Homo sapiens: one gene and its partners. Each later gene encodes a partner of the first gene's protein in a complex. Each region holds a gene or a part of one and is shown in the gene's direction. Other genes may lie near its edges. The genes, in order: MIDEAS, DNTTIP1 and HDAC1.

Region 1 (7,106 bases):
ACTGCCAATATTCAACTATTTTTGGATTCACAAATAGTAGTTTCCTTTGGTTCAACCTAATAGCCACTTCCTAGGCTCAGGTGCATTAGCACACATAAAGCTGGAACATCATGCCCAGGCCATCCTGTTTGCTCATAGTCCTTTGTGGCAGATCTAGTCTCTGGGGCTCTCGAACAGTCTTTTTGGCCAAAAGCAGACATTCTGGAAATATTGGGCTGGCTTGGGGTGATGTACTGCTGAAAAATGTTGCCCACTCCATAAAGAGATCCATTTCCTCTGCAAAATGGGATAATCCAATCCCTTAGGGTGGTAGAGAGGATTAAGTGGAAGTAGCTAGCTTATAGATGCCTTTGGCCAATTAACCTTTGACTGTGACCTCACCCATGGTGTAGCTCTCTGGTGCCCCCTGGTGTCTGTGGATGCAAAATGTTTGCCCTAGGCTGGCCAGCCTTCTGTACTGCTTCCTGGGGAGGCTTCTCCCTGGCTAGGCTGTGTAGGAAGAGGAAGTCATTGTAGAGATCAGACTGGCAGCCAGCGAGAGGTCAGTCTGTCCACGAGTATCTACCGAACACTCGGGCGTAAGGCCTTGTACTGGGTCCTGTGAGGGCTCCAAGAATGTACAGGACACCATGGTCTGTTCTATAGAGAATGCAAGGTCATTAGGGAGTTGACATGAAAGCCTTGGAGTTGAAAAAACAGAGGTTCCCGGTAGTGTGGGATCTGCAGCCAGTGAGCAAAGCCCCAGCAGCTAGCCTGGGATGGTGAGGACTGTATTCAAGAGGGGTGGGGCCAGAGCTGAGCCGCAGCGATGGAGGAGGGCGGGGGGCAGGGAGGACACACCAGGCGGAGGAAATGACTGGTGCAAAGGCCTGTAGATGGGACCGTGCAGGGAGAGTGAGGGGTTGGGAGGTAAGCAGTCAGCTAGGATGCAGGTCCAGGCACATGGGTGGTGGGAGGTACAAATGGAAGCGGAACCGCCTTGAACCCTGAGGGGAGGGTTGCAGGTTTTATCTCACATTGCAGGAGGGAGTCAGTAAAGAGCAAAGATTTTTTTTTTTTTTTTTTTTTAAGCAAAGGAGTGTTTTGATCATGTGGGGCCTTAAGAAGACCAACTTGGGCCTGGGCACGGTGACTCACACCTGTAATTCCAGCTACTTGGGAGGCTGAGGGAGGAGAATTGCTTGAACTTGGAGGTTCAACTCCTTGAGCCGAGATCGCACCACTGCACTCCAGCCTGGGCGGAGACAGAGTGAGACTTTGTCTCAAAAAGCAACAACAACAACAACAAAAACAAAAAAAAAACTAGCTTGGGAGAAACTGAGGCAGAAAATCCAAAGAGGAAGTGAGACGATAACTATAAAACAGCGATCCCCTTCACCACCTCCCTAGTGTGCTCAAAGTTTCAGTCTCTTTACTAGAAAACCACAGCTTTATGTTGGAGTTAGTGTTGGAGCTTCTGGGGGCAAGGATATGGCTTTGGTAGTAGAAGCAGTAATAATAATCTTTATCGAGTGCCAGGCTCTGTGCATTATTTTATCCAGTTCTCACATTAACCGTAGGAGACAGGTAGTGATAGCCCCTTTTGGTGAGTGTGAAAACTGAGGCACCCAAATATTTAGTGAAGGGCCTGCGTTTTCGTAGGTGACAGGCTGCAGAGCCAGGACTCAGGTGCCTGTGTTCCCTGCGTGAGCTCTGTGTGTCACCACTGTGACTCTTGCACATACAGGGCAGCCACTAGGATTGGGGGTGCTTTGCTGAAAGGGGGGTGCTATTTATCAACCTGCTCTTTGTCCCATAGACAGTGCTGAAGTAACCCCGCCTGTCCTCTCTGTGATGGGGGAGGCCACCCCAGTGAGCATCGAGCCGTAAGTGCAGCCCTGCCCCTGGCCGAGGGGTGTGGGTGGCCACACTGGTGCAGTGTGTGCAGGTGGGCCCTGGGAGCAACAGGAGGGTTCCGTGGGGCCTGCAGAGGGCTGAGAGGGCCTCCTTGAGCTTCTGTATGTGGCCCTGGGCTTTGCTGTCCCCGCCCTGCCTCTGTGTGGAAGTTGCAGGGAAGGGCAAGGACCGGCTCAGCTTGAACTTATCTCTAGGAGAGTTGAAAGGGGGGTCCAGAGGCTCTTTCCCATCTGTAAACCTGCAGCTGCTTCTCCCCTCTCCAGCCTCTGGACCTTGCCTTTCTGGTGGTGCCAGGTCAGGCTGTCCTCCCAAGCCCCTAGAAGCCAGACTCCCTACACCTAGCTGAGGCCTTGCTCTGCCGGCTCCCCCTCATCTTCTTCCCACCCTGAGGGATCATCAAGTTCTCCGTCCCCGCAAGGTGAGGCCTCACTTCCTGCCCTTTTCACTCCTCTAGACGGATCAACGTGGGCTCCCGGTTCCAGGCAGAAATCCCCTTGATGAGGGACCGTGCCCTGGCAGCTGCAGATCCCCACAAGGCTGACTTGGTGTGGCAGCCATGGGAGGACCTAGAGAGCAGCCGGGAGAAGCAGAGGCAAGGTGAGGAGGGGCCTGGGGGCAGCAAGTGAGGGCAGGCACATGGGTGGGCCAGGCCTCACCCTGCCCAGCCCCGCCCTGAACGTGGTTTCCTCCCCTCCCTCCTCATGCTCCTGTGGATCCAGTGGAAGACCTGCTGACAGCCGCCTGCTCCAGCATTTTCCCTGGTGCTGGCACCAACCAGGAGCTGGCCCTGCACTGTCTGCACGAATCCAGAGGAGACATCCTGGTGAGAAGGCAACCCCAGCAGAGGGAGGGCCCCTCAGTGGGGGCTGGCTTGGATCCATGTCTGCTGCTCAGGACCTATGGCTGCTGGCATGCACATTTGAGGCCAGTAGGAGGGTCTGACTAAGGAAGGGGCTGTAGGGGCTTGACCCAAGGGAGCCCTAGTTTCAGACCCCGGGTTTTGCTGTGCAGTGTCCTCCTGTCCATTCCCATCCCTGATTCTGGGTCAGTGGACTCAGACTGGATGGTTGCTGAGAGCCTTCTCCAGCAGTGCTGCCTCCCTTGGGGCCATGGACTCTCTTAAGAGGACCTGAGGTCTGTTTTCTGGGCAGCCCCACCCCCTGTGATCTCACCACCCCAGTGGACCCCTTATCTCTCAGCAGTTAAGGGGGCAAGAGTAAGTGTCCACCCTACTCGGGATTTTATCAGGGCCTAGAATGCTCCGTCCACCACCGACACCCCTGTCAGTGCCCTGACCCTTCCCTCACTTCCCCTCCAGGAAACGCTGAATAAGCTGCTGCTGAAGAAGCCCCTGCGGCCCCACAACCATCCGCTGGCAACTTATCACTACACAGGTGGGCCTGGCTGCGGTGGGCATGGTGCCTGGAGCCTCAAGAGGTCTCCAGCATCCATGGGGCCCTGCTCAGTGCTGAGTCACAGCCCTGGGTGGGGGCGGGAGGAGGAGGGTAGATAAGCCAAGAGTCAGAGTGAGGGAACTGCCACCAAAGCTGGGGTAGCTCTCCAGGGGTTTCCTGTGCCCTGGAGGGGAGGGGAGAAGGGAGTGGGCAGGTGGGAGACCATCCAGGCAAAAAAGCCCAGGCCACAAGGACAGGAACCCATGGAGAGCCATCCAGATTGGCATCAGGTACCTGGAACTTAGCCCCAGGAGTGCATGTCCTGTTCTGGTCACTTTAAGAAGGACATGGACCGAGTCACATAATCCTAACAGCCAATGTTTTCCATGCATGTTAGTGCTACATTTCATCTGCACCAGGCAGAGCACCAAGGGTTTCACATGCATTATCTTATTTAATCCTCACCACAGCTGGTGAGCTAGGTGATATTAGTTTCCATTTCACAAGCAAGGGAGCGAGGCTGTGAGGCACATGGAAGTGGGACGAGGAGCCGGCTCTGATGCCTGCAGAAACCATGGGCGGATGGCCTCACACTTTTTTGCTTGTCAAAATTGCCCTGCAGTGGCCAGGGCCCTGCCCACCTCACTCCCTGGCTGCCTCTTTGCCCCATAGGCTCTGACCAGTGGAAGATGGCCGAGAGGAAGCTGTTCAACAAAGGCATTGCCATCTACAAGAAGGATTTCTTCCTGGTGCAGAAGCTGGTGAGCTGGGCTCTGTTTCAGGGCAAATGAGGGCCAGGAGCTGCCTGTGTGACTTTGGGGCTCCCTCTGCCAGTGACCAATCCCTCTTAAAAAGCAGTCAGGTCAATGCTACTGAGTAGCCTCAGAGAGAATTTCCTAAACAATACAAGAAAGAGAAAGATAGGTCTCTTTTCCCTTTTGGTTCTAAGCATCCTTTCCTCACTTCAGGGTAGGGTGGCCAAGCTCTGGGGTCTCAATCCAGAAGGAGGCCTAAGTGGGCATCAGACTTAAAATAGGCAGGAGGAAGATGCGGAGGAGGGTGGCAAGTAGAGGTGAGCCATTCCCCAGAGGAAGATGCAGGGGGAGGGCACCCTGGGGTGAAGGCCACTGAGAGCCAGCAAGTGCCTGCGGAGCTGACCTGGGGGCCTCTGCCCACTTCCTTTGACCCAGAGTTGCCTTCCAGTAACTCAGCTGTTCAAGCCCACATTCCCTAGATTTATCTTGTCCTCTCTCCATATTCTTCTGGAAAAGCAGATGCTTTGCTAATCCAAGGAATTGCATCTTTCCAGCCCTGTCTCACAAAATCTGGGCTGTGGGGAGAGAGAATTGTGTGGACTGCCAAGGGAAAAGAGTTTTTAAAAAGAGCATGCCCTTTCCTCTTGGGATTGTAGATTGTATTGGGAACAGCCCTGGGGACTAGACAAAGTGCTGATGATGAATTCCCCTACAAGGGCCCTGTTGTGAGGAGTCCTTTGCTGTGTTTTAGTAACACGCTATTCCCTGATTGGGCAATACTGACGGGAAGTACACGCCCGTGAAATTCACGGAGGCGCCCCTAATGCCTAATGAAATGAGCAGACCTTTAGTCAGTCAAACAAAGGGTCAGAGAGAATTGACAGTAAATGTGTAAATGGCCTAATTAATACATGTGTGACTTGGCCATTTCTGTGAGATGAAACATGTCTGTTTCCTCCTCAGACACAAAGGGCCCACACTGACCCCTGGCCTCTCTGGACAGGAGCTCCCAGCCCAGCGGTGGCTGAGCAATGTGCGAGCCTGTGTGGTGGTGTCAGAGGAAACAGCCTCTGGGTGTGGGAAAGTTGCCCAAAAACTAAACCCAGTGGCCAAATAGATTTATGCAATGGGAGAGCTAGAATTTCAGAGCTTGAGAGGCAGGTCCCTGGAGATCATCTAGTCTTACTTAACCCCATTTGCTATTTACACATGAAAAAACTGAAATTAGAAAAGTGAGTGACTTGCCTAAGCTCGAATAGCTGTGTGGTAGCAGAGTCAGGAGGAAGACTTAGGCCTTTCGCTTCCTCCTCAGGTTTTCCAGGGCTTTCTTGTGAGTTTCCCTTGAGTTCCTCCCCCGACAGGGGACACTGTGACATTTCTGTATGCTCACTTCTCAGCCACTGCTCCCTGGAGAGAAATGAAATTGTTTGCCTGGATTAATGAAAAGCGTCTGTGTTGCCAGGTCAGGGCTGGCTTTGGATGTAGATGGTGCCCAGACCTTTTCCCTCAACTTTTCAGTTTGAAAAATTTCAAACTTAGAGGAAAATGGAAAGAACAGTAGAATGAACACCCATCCACCCCGGACTTAGATTTAGCAATCGTTAACATTGGCTATATTTGCTTTCTCTTTCTCTATGTCTAAACATAGACACACACATATACAGCTCTCTCTTGTTCTCTGATTCAGCTAATCATTAAAAGTAAGTTACAGTCATCCTGTCACATGACTAAAACCTTTCAGCACGTATCTCCTAAAAACCAAGATATTCTACAAAACCACAGTACCATTAGCACGCCCACGAAATTTAACCTGATAAAATAATTCAGGCCAGGCGAGGTAGCTCACGCCTGTGATTCCAGCACTTTGGGAGGCAGAGGCAGACGGATCACTCCTGAGGCCAGGAGTTTGAGACCAGGCTGGCCAACATGGCAAAACCCCATGTCTACTAAAAATATTTAAAAAAAACTAGCTGGTTGTGGTGGCACACACCTGTAATCCCAGCTACTCAGGAAGCTGAGGCACGAGAATTATTTGAACCTGGGAGGCGGAGGTTGCAGTGAGCCAAAATCGCGTCACTGCACTCCAGCCTGAGTGACAGAGCGAGACTCTGTCTCCAAAAAAAAGAAAAAAAAATACAGTAATGCCCTCTGATATGCAATCCATATTGCCATCTCCCGAGTGGTTCCGACATTGTCCTTTATAGCTTTTTTTATTTATTTACTTATTTTAAATAGTGCTGAAGCATTGATTAATTGATCAGTGGTTTGTTGCAGAGCAGGCATTGGAAAAATGCTTGTATTGCCTGGGTTGGCTGGGTTTCATTTTGGCTTGAAGTTAAGGGAAAGATGCAGGGACGAGAAAGGCTGGATTCTCCACAGGCAGATGAGCCAAACCAGAGGGTTCTGACCTCAGTTTTGACTTCAAACCAGATCCAGACCAAGACCGTGGCCCAGTGCGTGGAGTTCTACTACACCTACAAGAAGCAGGTGAAAATCGGCCGCAATGGGACTCTAACCTTTGGGGATGTGGATACGAGCGATGAGAAGTCGGCCCAGGAAGAGGTTGAAGTGGATATTAAGGTGACTCCTTTTCCAACCTCAGCTGCATAGAGCCTGGGCTGGGTCTGGGACCAGGCCTGAGCTGGGAGCCCGAGCCCGAGCTCTCCAGGAGCCTGCAGAGGGCAGGTTGAGGAAGACAGTGTCCCTGACAGCCGCAAGGAGCCCTGGACCGCTGGGTTCTCCTCTCTATACTGCTGGTGTCATAGTAATAATACATTGTGTTGATACACAGGGTAATTTTCCCACAAGATTCACACCAGCATCATCTTCCTATCTCCGCTTAGCAGACCTCTAACACTGTTTCTCAAACCTCAGTCATTCTTGTATCACCTTTTTGATTTCTGCCATATCTGCATCCTACCATGTGTCGCCATTAGAATTTTTGTCATATTCATATACTACTTGTGCCATTACTTAATATTTTCCTTTAAGTCAACTCATTTTTTACTCAGAAGGGAAGTTTTATATCACAGTGATAAATAGAAAACCAAGGTTGTGTGCT
Region 2 (7,106 bases), on another chromosome or scaffold:
TACAGGCATCCGCCACCACGCCCAGCTAATTTTTTGTATTTTTAGTAGAGACGGGGTTTCACCGTGTTAGCCAGGATGGTCTCGATCTCCTGACCTCGTGATCCGCCCACCTCGGCCTCGCAAAGTGCTGGGATTACAGGTGTGAGCCACCGCGCCCGTCCTGATTTTTTGCACTATTTACACCTCAATCTGTTGGGCACCCCCACGATTATATCCGTAAGAGGGGGAATAAAGGGAGGAGGTCAAGCCTGAAATGTGAATCTAAATCTGGCTGATCCCAAAGCCCTGCTCATAATCACTTTTCCCTTCTGTATGAAGCTAGGATAAAGACTTATTTTATATTCAGTTTCCTTCAGGTTGATGCACATTAACAGGACTCTGACCTTGTCCTCTGTTGTGCTCCCCTAGTTCTTCCAGAAGGCAGCACTGAACGTGCGAGACAATGTTGGGGAGGAGGTGGACGCAGAGCAGCTGATCCAGGAAGCCTGTCGGAGCTGCCTGGAGCAGGTGAGACCAAAGGGGACAAGAGATGCAGGCACAAGGTTTAGCTCTCGAGCCTCTGATAAGAAATGCGATCTTAAGCCGGACGTGGTGGCTCACACATGTAATCCCAGCACTGTGGGAGGCCAAGGTGGGCAGATCACTCAAGGCCAGGAGTTTGAGACCAGCTTGGGCAACGTGGCTAAACCCCATCTCTACAAACAATACGAAAATTAGCTGGGCATGGTGGTGCACGCCTATAATCCTAGCTGCTTGGGAGCCATAGGCACGAGAATCGCTTGAACCTGGGAGACAGAGGTTGCGGTGAGCCGAGATGGCACCACTACACTCCAGCCTGGGTGAAAGAGCAAGATTCTGTCTCAAAAACAAACAAAAAAAGAAATGTGATCTTGTCATCAGTGGTATTTTGGGGAATGCCCAGCAAGCCACATATTGAGATAGGCTTGAGGCTGTTGCTGACAGGGAAAGGAAGGGAAGTAGCTACTATATGTCAGGTACCAGGATAAATGCATTATTTTTTTTTATGTCTCAGAAGAAACTATGTACAGAAGATATCTTTTAATTACTATTTTATAGATGAAGAAATTGTGACTTAGCAAACTCATAGAAGCAGAGAGTAGAATGGCAGTAGCTGGAGGGGAGAAGTGGGGGGATGTTAATCAAAGGGTACAAACTTTTAGTTATAAGATGAACAAGTTCTGGGCAATCTGATGTACAGCATGATGACTATAGTTTATCTCTATTGTTTACTTGAAATTTGCTAAGACCATAGATCTTAAGTGTCCACACACAAAATGGTAGTGGTGGATGTGTTGATTGATTTCATTGTGGTAATCATTTCACTATGTATATCTATGTCAATTCATCACATTGTACACCTTGAATATATACCATTTCTGTTTATCAATTATACATCAATAGAGCTAGAAAAAAATTTTTAAAAGCAAAGCAAAAAAAAAAAAAGAAATGGCTTAAGACACATAATAATTAGAATAGCTAAGATCTGTCTCACCCCTGCAGGTGCGTGGTGGATCAAGTTATCATGGCCCCATTTGGTATCATGGGGATGAGCACCCTGCTGCCTCCCTGCCTCTCTGGTGTGGTCAGGAAGCATGACATCAGGTCTATAAATGACTGTTCCCAAGATAGTAGAGAACCTGTTTACATGTGTCAGCTGCTGTTATTAGGAGGAATTGTTGCCATCACCATTTTATAGGGAGACATCAGGAAAGGTCGCCAATAGTCGCTGGCTCACTTTCTCACCTCCTATTCATTCTCTTCACTTTGTTTTCGCTTCAGTCCCCACTACTTCACTGGAACCCCTCTTGTCGGGGTCGCTAGTAACTTCCGTGTTGTCAAACCCTCTGGTCCCTAACTGTCCTCAACTTACTCAGCTTCTCAGTGACATCTGTCACAATGGATCATTTCGCGTTTCTTGGAATGCTCCTCTGTTGGCTAGAGTGCCTTGACTTTGCTCCAACCTCATTGCCTACTCTTCTCTCTCACCCCCCGCCTCTAACTGTTGGTGCCTTCCCAAGTTCAGTCCTCAAACCCCTTCTCTTTCATGGCTCACTGTTTTCATAGGTGTTTTCATCTAGTCCTGTGGCTTGGAAGCCAATTCAGCCGCTCATAATTCACACATTTATATCTCAGTCCAGAGTTACATTCACCGTTACCCAGTTCCAATCCACTCTTCTCACAGCAGCCAGACTGATCTCCGTAAAGATGAATTAGATCATGTCACTCCCCATTTTAAAAACCCTTCAGTGACTTTCCTGTTGCAGGGAGAATAAAGTCTTAATGCCTTACCATGATCCTGCTGGGAAAACTGGCTAGCCATATGTAGAAAGCCGAAACTGGATCCCTTCCTTACACCTTATACAAAAATTAATTCAAGATGGATTAAAGACTTAAATGTTAGACCTAAAACCATAAAAACCCTAGAAGAAAACCTAGGCAATACCATTCAGGACATAGGCATGGGCAAGGACTTCATGACTAAAACACCAAAAGGAATGGCAACAAAAGCCAAAATTGACAAATGGGATCTAATTAAACTAAAGAGCTTCTGCACAGCAAAAGAAATGACCATCAGAGTGAACAGGCAACCTACAGAATGGGAGAAAATTTTTGCAATCTACTCATCTGACAAAGGGCTAATACCCAGAATCTACAATGAACTCTAACAAATTTACAAGAAAAAAACAAGCAACCCCATCAACAAGTGGCCAAAGGACATGAACAGACACTCCTCAAAAGAAGACATTTATGCAGCCAAAAGACACATGAAAAAATGCTCATCATCACTGGCCATCAGAGAAATGCAAATCAAAACCACAATGAGATACCATCTTACACCAGTTAGAATGGTGATCATTAAAAAGTCAGGAAACAACAGGTGCTGGAGAGGATGTGGAGAAATAGGAACACTTTTACACTGTTGGTGGGACCGTAAACTAGTTCAACCATTGTGGAAGTCAGTGTGGCGATTCCTCAGGGATCTAGAACTAGAAATACCATTTGACCCAGCCATCCCATTACTGGGTATATACCCAAAGGAATATAAATCATGCTGCTATAAAGACACATGCACACATATGTTTATTGTGGCACTATTCACAATAGCAAAGACTTGGAACCAACCCAAATGTCCAACAATGATAGACTGGATTAAGAAAATGTGGCACATATATACCATGGAATACTATGCAGCCATAAAAAGTGATGAGTTCATGTCCTTTTTAGGGACATGGATGAAGCTGGAAACCATCATTCTCAGCAAACTATCACAAGGACAAAAAACCAAACACCGCATGTTCTCACTCATGGGTGGGAATTGAACAATGAGAACACATGGACACAGGAAAGGGAACATCAGACACCGGGGCCTGTCGTGGGGTTGGGGGAGGGGGGAGGGATAGCATTAGGAGATATACCTAATGTTAAATGACGAGTTACTGGGTGCAGCACACCAACAAGGCACATGTATACATATGTAACAAACCTGCATGTTGTGCACATGTACCCTAAAACTTAAAGTATAATTTAAAAAAAAATGCCTTACCATGACCCACAGAGCCTACCCTCGACTGGCTTCTGCCTGCTTCTTTAACTTCATTTCATCTCACCTCTTTTTTATTGACTATACTCTGGCTGTTCTGAACTCCTTTCTGCTCCTCCAGCACAAGCTTAGGCCATTTCACTTGCTGTTCTTAGTACCTGGGGTACTCTACCCTTAACTCTATAAAGCCGGCTCCTTCTTTTCTTCAGATCTTAGTTTAAATATCAGAGAGGTCTTCCCCTCGCACTCCTACCTCTGCTAAAATCTTGAGCTTTACAAGAGTTGAGGCCTAATCTTGTTCACCACTGTATTCCCAGCCCTGGAATATGACTCTTAGTATGTGTACAGAGTTTGCTGAATTATTGAGTAAATGAAGGAACAAACAAATGATAAATGAACAAACAAGCTTCCTGCTCTAATAGAACTTAACAGCCTACTTAAGCAGACAGGTGTGAATTAGATTACCAACAAATGTGTGCATAATTACACATTGAGACTTGATCACCCTTCACTGGAAAGGGACAAAGTTTGGAGGAGAAGAGCATGAATCCAATTATGGATTAGCAGCTTTGAGCCATCCAAGCATAGACATGGGGCAGACTATTTGGTATATAAGTCTAGAGCTCAGAGGATAACCTTTTGTCTACAGTTGAATTATGGAATCGTGGTTTATAGATGTTAATTGAAGCTGTGAGAATAGGTGAGAGCAGATAGAATATGTAATGAGAGAGGATAGGGAAAAGAACCAGATTGAGAAGGAAAAGCCAGCAAAGAAGGCTAAGAAAGAACGGCCAGAGAAGTAGAAGGAACACAGGAAGTGTGGCCACAGGAGCCTGTAGAAAAGAGTGTTTCCAGAAGGGGGAGCCCTCAGCACTGTCAAATGCCACTGGCAGAGGTCGGGTGAACCCAATTCTCCACCTGCTGCACCATCTCCCCTCTGCCCATTCCATCCTTTTCTTTGTCAAATGAGCCAGGTGTTCCCACCTTTGAGCTTCTGCACTCCTCCCTGCTGCTGAAACACTTCTGCCCAGCTTTTTTTACAGCCTCCTTCACATCTCAACTCAGAGGCCACCTTCTGAGCAAGGCCTTCCCTGGCCATTCCCGCAAAGTAGCCCTTCCCCTCTGGTGGTTCTCTGTCACATCTGCCTGGGTTTTTTTCTTTTTTTCTCACAGCATCTATCATGATCCACAGTTACCTTGTTTGTTTCTGTGCTTATTATCCAGATCACCCACAAACTATAAGCTCCACAAGAGCTTGTCCTAGTTACTGCTGTGTCCACAGCACTTAGGTCCCAGGTACTCAGTATTTATTAAAAGAAAAACAGCAGGCCAGGCGCACTGGCTCACGCCTGTAATCCCAACACTTTGGGAGGCTGAGGCGGGCAGATCACGAGGTCAGAAGTGTGAGACTAGCCTAGCCAACGTGATAAAACCCCATCTCTACTAAAAATACCAAAAAAAAAAAAAAAAAAAATTAGCTGGGTGTGGTTGCACGCCTGTAATCCCAGCTACTCAGGAGGCAGAGGCAGGAGAATTGCTTGAACCTGGGAGGCGGAGATTGCAGACAGCCGAGATCGCACCACTGTACTCCAGTCTGGGCAACAGAGCAAGATTCCATGTCAAAAAAAAAAAGAAAAAAGAAAAACAGCAGCTTACTGAGGAGTATGTGTTATACTAATGTATTTAGTTTGAAAAAACATACAGTATGTATTTACATGGGAAAAGCAAGGAAGAATTTACATTGAAACATTAATAGTAGTTTATGTAATGAGATTCCAGGTTTTTCTTATTTTGCTTTTTTACATTTTTTAATTTTTCCAGCCATGATCATTAATTCAAGTTTTTTTAAAAATAGATATCTATTTCTATGCATATAAATATATATATGTGTGTGGCTGGGCGTGGTGGCTCATGCCTGTAATCGCAGCACTTTGGGAGGCCAAGGCAGGTGGATCACCTGAGGTTAAGAGTTCGAGACCAGCCTGGCCAACATGGTGAAACCCCGTTTCTAATAAAAATACAAAAATTAGCTGGGCATGGTGGTGGGCACCTGTAATCTCAGCTGCCTGGGAGGCTGAGGCAGGAGAATCGCTTGAACCCAGGAGGCGGAGGTTGCAGTGAGCTGAGATAGCACCACTGCACTCCAGCCTGGGCGACAAGAGTGAAACTCCATCTCAATTTAAAAAAAAAAAAAAAATATATATATATATATATATATATATATATATATATATATATATATATATATATATATATATTTGGAAGTGGGCCGATCACTTGAGGTCAGGAGTTCAAGACCAGCCTGTCCAACATGGTGAAATCCCGTCTCTTCCAAAAATACAAAAATTAGCTGGGTATGGTGGCGCACCCCTGTAGTCCCAGCTACTTTGGAGGCTGAGGCATGAGAATCACTTGAACCCAGGAGATGGAGGTTGCAGAGAGCCAAGATGGTGCTGCTGCACTCCAGCCTGAGCAACAGAGCAAGACTCTGTCTCCAAAAAAAAAAAAGGAAGTAGGTAGGGTGTGCTTACCCACCAAAATAGTGACTGGTAACACTTGGTCTTTTTCCCTTCAGGCTAAACTGCTCTTTTCAGATGGAGAAAAAGTAATACCCAGATTGACCCATGAGCTTCCAGGAATAAAGGTCAGAGTCACTGTGTTCTCGGGTATTGGAGCGGGAGGTCCTTCAGGCTGGGAGGCAAGTGAAATATGTGGGCCCAGGGAGGTTCCATGTACTTCCATTTGTAGGACCAGGCCCACACAGCATCATGCTGGATGGGCTTCTTTGGCCTGGGTCAGAGCGGGGCTGGAGAGCTGTAGTCCAGGGCTGTCTTCTGCAACTCCAGAAGACCTGCAGCTCCCAGGCACTGGCCTTCCACTGACTCCCTTCCCTTTTCTTTTAGCGTGGCCGTCAGGCAGAAGAAGAATGTGCCCATCGAGGAAGCCCCCTTCCTAAAAAGGTAAACCATTTCCTTGTTTTGTTTTCTGGCTGAAAAAAGGCTTGTCAGGCCGGGTGTGGTGGCTCACACCTGTAATCCCAACACTTTGGGAGGCCAAGCGGGGAGGATCACTTGAGCTCAGGAGTTTTGAGACCAGTCTGGGTAACATAGTGAGACCCTGTCTCTAAAATAAAAAAAAAATTAGCCAGGCATGCTGGCACATTTCTGTCGTCCTAGCTACATGAGAGGCTGCAGTGGGAGGATCACCTGAGCCCAGGAGTTCAAGGCTGTAGTGAGCTATGATCATGCCACTGCACTCCAGGCTGAGTAACAGAGTAAGACCCTGTCTCTCAAAAAAGGCTCTTCACTCCGCAAGGTACTGGGCTTCCTCAAAGCCCTTTTGAGCCTTCCTAGACATGAGAGGCAGTTTTTCTCCCTGTCCCTGTCAAACATCATTTGATCTCTTTGGAAAACCATCTCTGCCAAGTGACCCTGGACCTGCCAATGGGGTATGGGGAGTAACCACAGGGTCAGACCTCTGACAGCTGTTTTTTGTGGCAGAGGAAAGGACGGCCTCCTGGACACATCCTGTCAAGCGACCGGGC
Region 3 (7,004 bases), on another chromosome or scaffold:
GGATAGTTTGAGCCCAGGAAGTCAAGGCTGCAGTGAGCATGATCCTGCCATTGCACTCCAGCCAGAGCAAAAAAGAGAGCGAAACCCCATCTCAAAAAAAAGGGAAGATTTAGCTATGTTGGACTTACCTGTCCTCATGGAGCTGAATAATGGCCACCCCTCCAGGTAGGGCCTGAACTCTACCTTTGCCAGAGTCCCCTCCACTCCCTGTTGGTCTTAGACAATGAAACTGAGTGTTAGTAGCTATTTACCACCAAGCTCATGCTTGTTGTTCTTATAATAAAGATAAATGGTTTAATAAATGGTATGATAAAGAAAATTATATTATGGTATTATACCATTTAATAAATGGTATAATAAAGAAAATGGTTTTTTGCACCCACATTTCCATTAAAAAGTGAGAAAATTAAAGATACCTGAGGATGGCAGAGTGTTTGATGAAAGATAGGGAAATGTTGGCCAGGCACCGTGGCTCACACCTGTAATCCCAGCAGTTTAGGAGGCCGGGGCAGGCGGATCACAAGGTCAGGAGTTCAAGATCAGCCTGGCCAACATAGTGAAACCCCGTCTCTACTAAAAATACAAAAAATTAGCCGGGAGTGGTGGCAGGTGCCTACAATCCCAGCTACTCGGAAGGCTGAATGGCGCGATCTCAGCTCATTGCAACCTCTGCCTCCCAGGTTCAAGCCATTCTTCTGCCTTAGCCTCCCTAGTAGCTGGGATTACAGGCGCCTGCCACCATGCCTAGCTAATTTTTATATTTTTAGTAGACGTGGGGTTTCGCCATGTTGGCCAGGCTGGTCTCAAACTCCTGACCTTGGGTGATCTGCCCGCCTCGGTCTCCCAAACTGCTGGGATTACAGGAGTGAGCCACAGTGCCCGGCCTCTAATTTTTATTTTTAATTTTTTTAATTTTTATTTTTTTAATTTTTATTTTATTTATTTTTTGTAATTTTTAAAATATACAAAAAAAGGGCCGGGTGTGGTGGCTCACGCCTGTAATCCCAGCACTTTTTGGGAGGCTGAGGTGGGTGGATCACGAGGTCAGGAGATCGAGACCATCCTGGCTAACATGGTGAAACCCTGTCTCTACTAAAAATATAAAAAAATTAGCCGGGCCTGGTGGCAGGTGCCTGTAGTCCCAGCTACTCGGGAGGCTGAGACAGGAGAATGGCGTGAACTCGAGAGGTGGAGCTTGCAGTGAGCCAAGATCGCACCACTACACTCCAGCCTGGGCGACAGAGTGAGACTTCATCTCAAAAAAAAAAAAAATTATATATATATATATACATATATATATGCAAACAAAGAGCATCTGAGTCATAATAATGTAAATCTATCACCTGACTGACCTGCTGCCACACCTCATGATCTCATCTGATCCCCACACTCCTTCTCTTTGGGATACTGTGTACAGCCATAGCGTGGGTGAACTTTGTATTCCTATCCTCCCCATTTTTGTTATTTTATTTTATTTCTTATTTATTTGAGACAGAGTCTCACTCTGTCATCCAGACTGTAATGCAGTGGCCTGATCTCGGCTCACTGCAACCTCCACCTCCCGGTTTCAAGCGAATCTCCTGCCTCAGCCTCCTAAGTAGCTGGGACCTACAGGCACACACCACCACGCCCAGCTAATTTTTGCATTTTTAATAGAGACGGGGTTTCACCGTGCTGGGCAGGCTGGTCTCGAACTCCTGACCTCAGGTGATTTGCCCACCTCAGCCTTCCAAATTGTTAGGATTACAGGCATGAGTCACTGTGCCCGGCCTCCTCCCCATTTTATAACAAGGGAAATGGAGGCCCAGAATGGTTAAGTAAACCCACCCAGGGCTAGCTGAGAATTAGCAACAGAGAACTGGGAGTAGAATTTGTTCCCTGGCCCTTTGCTGTTTCTATTATAAGCCACCCAGTCTTAGATTTTCTGTTACCTTATAATTAATGACTCAAATGCAGTTTCTGAGTGAGAAACACAAGTCCCAAACACTCTTTAAAGAGGCATAAAGATGTATCTTGTTGTTTTCTTTTGTTTGAGACAAGGCCTGGCTCTATTGCCCAGGCTGGAGTGTGGTGACATGATCTTGGCTCACTGCAACATCTGTCTCCTGGGCTCAAGCCATCATCCCACCTCAGCCTCCTGAGTAGCTGGAACTACAGGAGCGCGCCCCCACACCTGGGTAATTTTTCTATTTTTTGTAGAGATGGGGTTTTGCCATGTTGCCCAGGCTGGTCTCGAACTCCTGAGCTCAAGTGATCCACCCATCTTGGCCTCCCAAAGTGCTGGGATTACAGGCGTGAGCCACTGTGCCCAGCCTCTTGTTGACTGTAGGACCACAAGTTGGCGGCTAACTTAGAGCAATGTTTGGCACACAGGAAGCACTCATTAAATATTGACATTATTGTAGTTATTTTAATAGCCCAGCATTGCACTTTTAGGTCTTTCAGCTTTCAGTGATGATCAGTTGATAATTGATGATCTGGTGGAGTGGTTCTTAATGGTAGAGTTGGGGGCAATTTTACACTCCCTTACACCCCACTAATCTTCCCCCCAACCCAATGGTAAAGCTATTGCACAGTACTTGGCAATGTCTAGAGACAATTTTGGTTGTCACAGCCTGGGGGGAAGGTGCTACTGGCATCTAGTGGGTAGAGGCTAAGGATGCTGCTTAATTTTTTTTTTTTTTGAGACAAGAGTTTCACTCTAGTTGCCCAGGCACAGAACAGCTTCACAGAAGCTGTTAATGCACAGAATAGCTTCCTACAAAAAAGCATTACCTGGCCCAAAATGTCATTAGCTACCAGGCTGAGAAACCTGCCCTCCTAGGCCGGGCGCTGTGGCTCACGCCCGTAATCTCAGCATATTGGGAGGCCGAGGTGGGCGGATCCTGAGGTCAGGAGTTCGAGACCACCTGGACCAACACGGAGAAACCCAGTCTCTACCAAAAATACAAAATTAGCCGGGCATGGTGGCACATGCTTGTAATCCCAGCTACTCGGGAGGCTGAGGCAGGAGAACCGCTTGAACACAGAGGCAGAGATTGTGGTGAGCCGAGATCACACCATTGCACTCCAGCCTGGGCAACTAGAGCGAAACTCTTGTCTCAAAAAAAAAAAAAAAAAAAAAAACAGGGAAAGAAAAGAAAGGAAACCTGCCCTCCTATCATAGGATAATCCCATTTCCTCCTGTCTAAAGAGACGCCTACTTAGTCATCCTGGGTGACTGCATCAGGGAGGTAGATTTTGGAGTCTGAAAGGCTGGGTTCTGTCACTTTGTTACAGTGCCTCTGGTGCAAAGAAAGCATTTTAAAAACCCTGTACAATTAAAAAATTGAATTTAATTACTTTGTGTAACTTTGAATAATTCACAGAAGTCTGAACTTCTTTATCCTGTCCTGTAAAATGGAGGTAAAAAGCCCTTGGCCGAGAGCTGTTTTGAGGAAAAACTGAAATAACATTGGTAAAGTGTCGCACAGTACTTGGCACACAGCAGCCCCTCGACAAACATTAGCTTTCTTTCCCTTTCTTGTCGGTTTCTTCCTCTCCAAACCCGCGTGTTGCTTTTCTTTTTAATTATTTTTCTGTAGCCCTCCTTTGCGGCCACAAACTCGCTTTCTAACCCAGGTTCAGCCCTTTTATTGGCTGAGTGACCTTGTGCAAGTCACTTTTCCCCTGTAGGCCTCGGTTTATTCTCCGTAAAATCAGAAAGTTGGCCTCCGATCTCCAAGCACGCTTTTCACGACGAAGTGGGACTGTTAAGTTTACAGAGCTGCTTTCCTCCCCCGGGACTGATGGTACGGTCCCCGGGCGGCTCCCCACCCATCTGTCGCAGACCTTGGTACAGGCCCAGGGGGCCCTCGGCGGCCTCTCCGGGCTGCCCTTGCCCCCTGCCGAGTTCCGGGCCCGTGTCTGCGCAAGCTGATTGGCTGGAGCGGTGCCCGGGCTGCGCGGCTATAGGTGAGCCCAGGAGGGGACGGGCGGGGCGGGCCGGAGGCCCGCCCCCTCCCCCCTGGGTCGGACGCTGAGCGGAGCCGCGGGCGGGAGGGCGGACGGACCGACTGACGGTAGGGACGGGAGGCGAGCAAGATGGCGCAGACGCAGGGCACCCGGAGGAAAGTCTGTTACTACTACGACGGTGAGCACCGTCCTCGCGGCGGGGGCGGGGCCAGGCCGGGCCGGACCGGGAACCTGGAGGCTGAGGCTGGAGCGCCGATGGGAGGCTGCGGGAGGCTGAGGCGCTGGGGAGAGGCTCGGAGAGGAGGCTGCGAGGGGGAAGTCGAGGCTGAGGGAGGAGGCTGCGAGGAAGGGAGATCGAGGCTGAGACCAAGAGGGGATCGCGTGGGGGAAGCGTGAGGTAATCTTGATGGGAAGATTCTGAGGAAGTCTGATGTGGAGAGTTTGAGTGGGACTCCTAGAGGGGAGGGTGCGTCGGAGCGGGGAGGCTGAATCTGATGGAGACGGCTGCAAGGATACATTTTCTTGCCGAGAACCCAAAGCTCTTCCCTGCCCCGTCCCTTCCTCATCTTTTCTGGGGGAAGAGTCCTGCACGACTGGTTGCCCGCCTCCCCTCCCCCAGCCTCTGAGCGGGGCCTGCGGTTGCTACTGCGACGTGGGGCGCCAGGGGTTGCAAGGAGAAGGATGCAACCTGTTAAAACAGACTTCTCACTTAATCTCTCAAGCAGGTTACTGTGTTCGAGGAAGTGTTGAGGGGCTGGGGCCGTGGGGTTGATCGGGTCACCCTTCCCAGTGACCGAAGTTCTCTCCGTGTCAGAGCTCAGAGTGTTAGGGGAGCACAGAGAAGAGGCACCGAACTCCACCTGAGGAGTCAGCGAAGGAGGGGACATCTTAGTTAGGACCTGAAGAACAGGAGTTCTTAGCCAGGCACAGGGAAGGCAAAGATAACAGCAAGTTTCAGAGGCAAGAGAGAGGACAGGACCTTTGAAAAACAGGCATTTGGCCGGGCGTGGTGGCTCACGCCTGTAATCCCAGCACTTTGGGAGGCCGAGGCTGGTGGATCACCTGAGGTCAGGAGTTCGAGACCAGCCTGGCCAACATGGTGAAACCCCGTCTCTACTAAAAATACAAAATTAGCCGCGCATGGTGGTGTGCGCCTGTAATCCCAGCTACTCTGGAGCCTAAGGCAGGAGAATCCCTTAGAACCCGGGAGGCAGAGGTTGCAGTGAGCTGAGATCGTGCCACTGCACTCCAGCTTGGACAACAGAGCGAGGCTCTGTCTTAAAAAAAAAAAAAAAAAAAGATGTAAATAGGGACCGGACCATGAAGGGCTGGGCATGCTGTCCCAAGGAAGTTGGACTTTATTGAGGGCACTTGTGAGTGATTCAAGTTTTATGCAGGTTATTGACATCATCAGGTTTATACCTTAGAAATTAAAGTAATGGGGGCCAGGTGCAGTGGCTCACACCTCTCTAATCCCAGTACTTTGGGAGGCTGAGGCAGGCAGATCACTCGGGGCCAGGAGTTCAGGACCAGCCTGGCCAACACGGTGAAACCCCATCTCTACTAAAAATACAAAATTTAGGCTGGGCACGGTGGCTCACGCCTGTAATCCCGGCACTTTGGGAGGCTGAGGCGGGCGGATCATGAGGTCAGGAGTTCAAGACCAGCCTGACCAACATGGTGAAACCCTGTCTCTACTAAAAATACAAAAATTACCCGGGTGTGGTGGTGCGCACCTGTAATCCCAGCTACTCAGGAGGCTGAGGCAGGAGAGTCGCTTGAACCCAGGAGGCAGAGGTTGCAGTGAGCCAAGATTGCACCGCTGCACTCCAGCCTGGGCAACAGGGTGAGACTCCATCTCAAAAAAAAAAAAAAAAATTAGCGAGGTGTGGTGGCACATGCCTGTAGTCCCAGCTACTCAGGAGGCTGAGGTGCGAGAGTTGTTTGAACCTGGGAGGCAGAGGTTGCAGTGGGCTGAGATCTCACCACTGCACTCCGTCCTGGGCAACAGAGCGAGACTTCGTCTCAAAAAAAAAAAAAACAAAAAAATTCAGATTGTAGGGGTAAGGAAGAAGGCATGGATCCCAAGTTCCTGGTGTGGGCAGTATTTTTTATTTTTTGAGATGATGTCTAGCTCTGTCACCCAGGCTGGAGTGCAGTGGCTTGATCTCGGCTCACTGCAACTGCAACCTCCACCTCCCAGATTCAAGGGATTCTCCTGCCTCAGCCTCCTGAGTAGCTGGGATTACAGGCGTGCGCCACCATGCCTGGCTAGTTTTTGTATTTTTATTAGAGATGGGGTTTCACGATGTTGGCCAGGCTGGTCTCAAACTGACCTCCAGTGCTCCATCTGCCTCAGCCTCCCAAAGTGCTGGGATTATAGGCATGAGCCACACTTCCTGGCCTCTGATGTGGGCAATTTGATGGTGAGTGTTTGGAGGTTTGGAGAATGCCATGTCAGTTGATAACTTTTTTTTTTTTTTTTTTTTGAGATGGAGTCTCGCTCTGTCGCCCAGGCTGGAGTGCAGTGGCGCAATCTCGGCTCACTGCTGCAAGCTCCACCTCCCGGGTCCATGCCATTCTCCTGCCTCAGCCTCTCCAGTAGCTGGGACTACAGGCGCCCGCCACCACACTGGGCTGATTTTTTGTATTTTTAGTAGAGACAGGGTTTCACCGTGTTAGCCAGGATGGTCTGGATCTCCTGACCTCATGATCCGCCCGCCTCGGCCTCCCAAAGTGCTGGGATTACAGGTGTGAGCCACCGCACCCGGCCCCAACTTTTTTTTTTTTTTTTTAAACTTCTAGAGATGGGGTCTCAATATGTTGCCTGGGCTTGTCTTGAACTCCTGTGCCTGGCCTCAAGCAATCCTGCCACCTTGGCCTCCCAAAGTGCTGGGATTACAGGCCTAAGCCACTGTTTTTTTTGTTGTTGTTGTTTGTTTGTTTAGAAATAACTATTGATAACTGTTAAGATGTTTAGGGGACATCCAAGTAGAGGCATCCAGTAGGCAGTTTAGAAGATAGAAATTTTTTGGTAGTCATCAGTATCT

What was found.
Region 2: the proteins of MIDEAS (region 1) and DNTTIP1 are in contact, whole or in part, in a cryo-EM structure (PDB 6Z2J), measured with the Homo sapiens proteins. Residues at the interface, in NP_001036783.1 of Homo sapiens: Gln768, Asp771, Leu772, Thr774, Ala775, Ser778, Ser779, Ile802, Leu803, Leu806; in NP_443183.1 of Homo sapiens: Pro63, Ser66, Leu69, Leu70, Ala72, Val73, Leu74, Pro76, Ser77.
Region 3: the proteins of MIDEAS (region 1) and HDAC1 are in contact, whole or in part, in a cryo-EM structure (PDB 6Z2J), measured with the Homo sapiens proteins. Residues at the interface, in NP_001036783.1 of Homo sapiens: Arg722, Asn724, Gly726, Ser727, Arg728, Phe729, Gln730, Glu732, Pro734, Leu735, Met736, Arg737, Asp738, Arg739, Ala740, Leu741, Ala742, Ala743, Ala744, Asp745, His747, Lys748, Ala749, Asp750, Leu751, Val752, Trp753, Gln754, Pro755, Trp756; in NP_004955.2 of Homo sapiens: Tyr14 (codon at 4,123), Gly17, Asp18, Asn21, Tyr23, Gln26, Lys31, His33, Arg36, His39, Leu43, Asn44, Tyr48, Arg49, Lys50, Met51, Glu52, Ile53, Tyr54, Arg55, Pro56, His57, Thr65, Lys66, Tyr67, His68, Pro81, Ala119, Val122, Lys126.

What each region holds. Positions count from the first base shown.
Region 1 is NC_000014.9:73,722,217-73,729,322, reverse strand, and holds part of MIDEAS (mitotic deacetylase-associated SANT domain protein), read left to right. Parts: intron 1-1,798; coding exon 1,799-1,865; intron 1,866-2,350; coding exon 2,351-2,493; intron 2,494-2,615; coding exon 2,616-2,719; intron 2,720-3,214; coding exon 3,215-3,290; intron 3,291-3,962; coding exon 3,963-4,051; intron 4,052-6,475; coding exon 6,476-6,625; intron 6,626-7,106.
Region 2 is NC_000020.11:45,794,937-45,802,042, forward strand, and holds part of DNTTIP1 (deoxynucleotidyltransferase terminal-interacting protein 1), read left to right. Parts: intron 1-408; coding exon 409-507; intron 508-6,137; coding exon 6,138-6,206; intron 6,207-6,465; coding exon 6,466-6,522; intron 6,523-7,062; coding exon 7,063-7,106. UniProt on the Homo sapiens protein: Increases DNTT terminal deoxynucleotidyltransferase activity (in vitro). Also acts as a transcriptional regulator, binding to the consensus sequence 5'-GNTGCATG-3' following an AT-tract.
Region 3 is NC_000001.11:32,288,087-32,295,090, forward strand, and holds the start of HDAC1 (histone deacetylase 1), read left to right. Parts: upstream 1-3,996; 5' UTR 3,997-4,083; coding exon 4,084-4,132; intron 4,133-7,004. UniProt on the Homo sapiens protein: Histone deacetylase that catalyzes the deacetylation of lysine residues on the N-terminal part of the core histones (H2A, H2B, H3 and H4).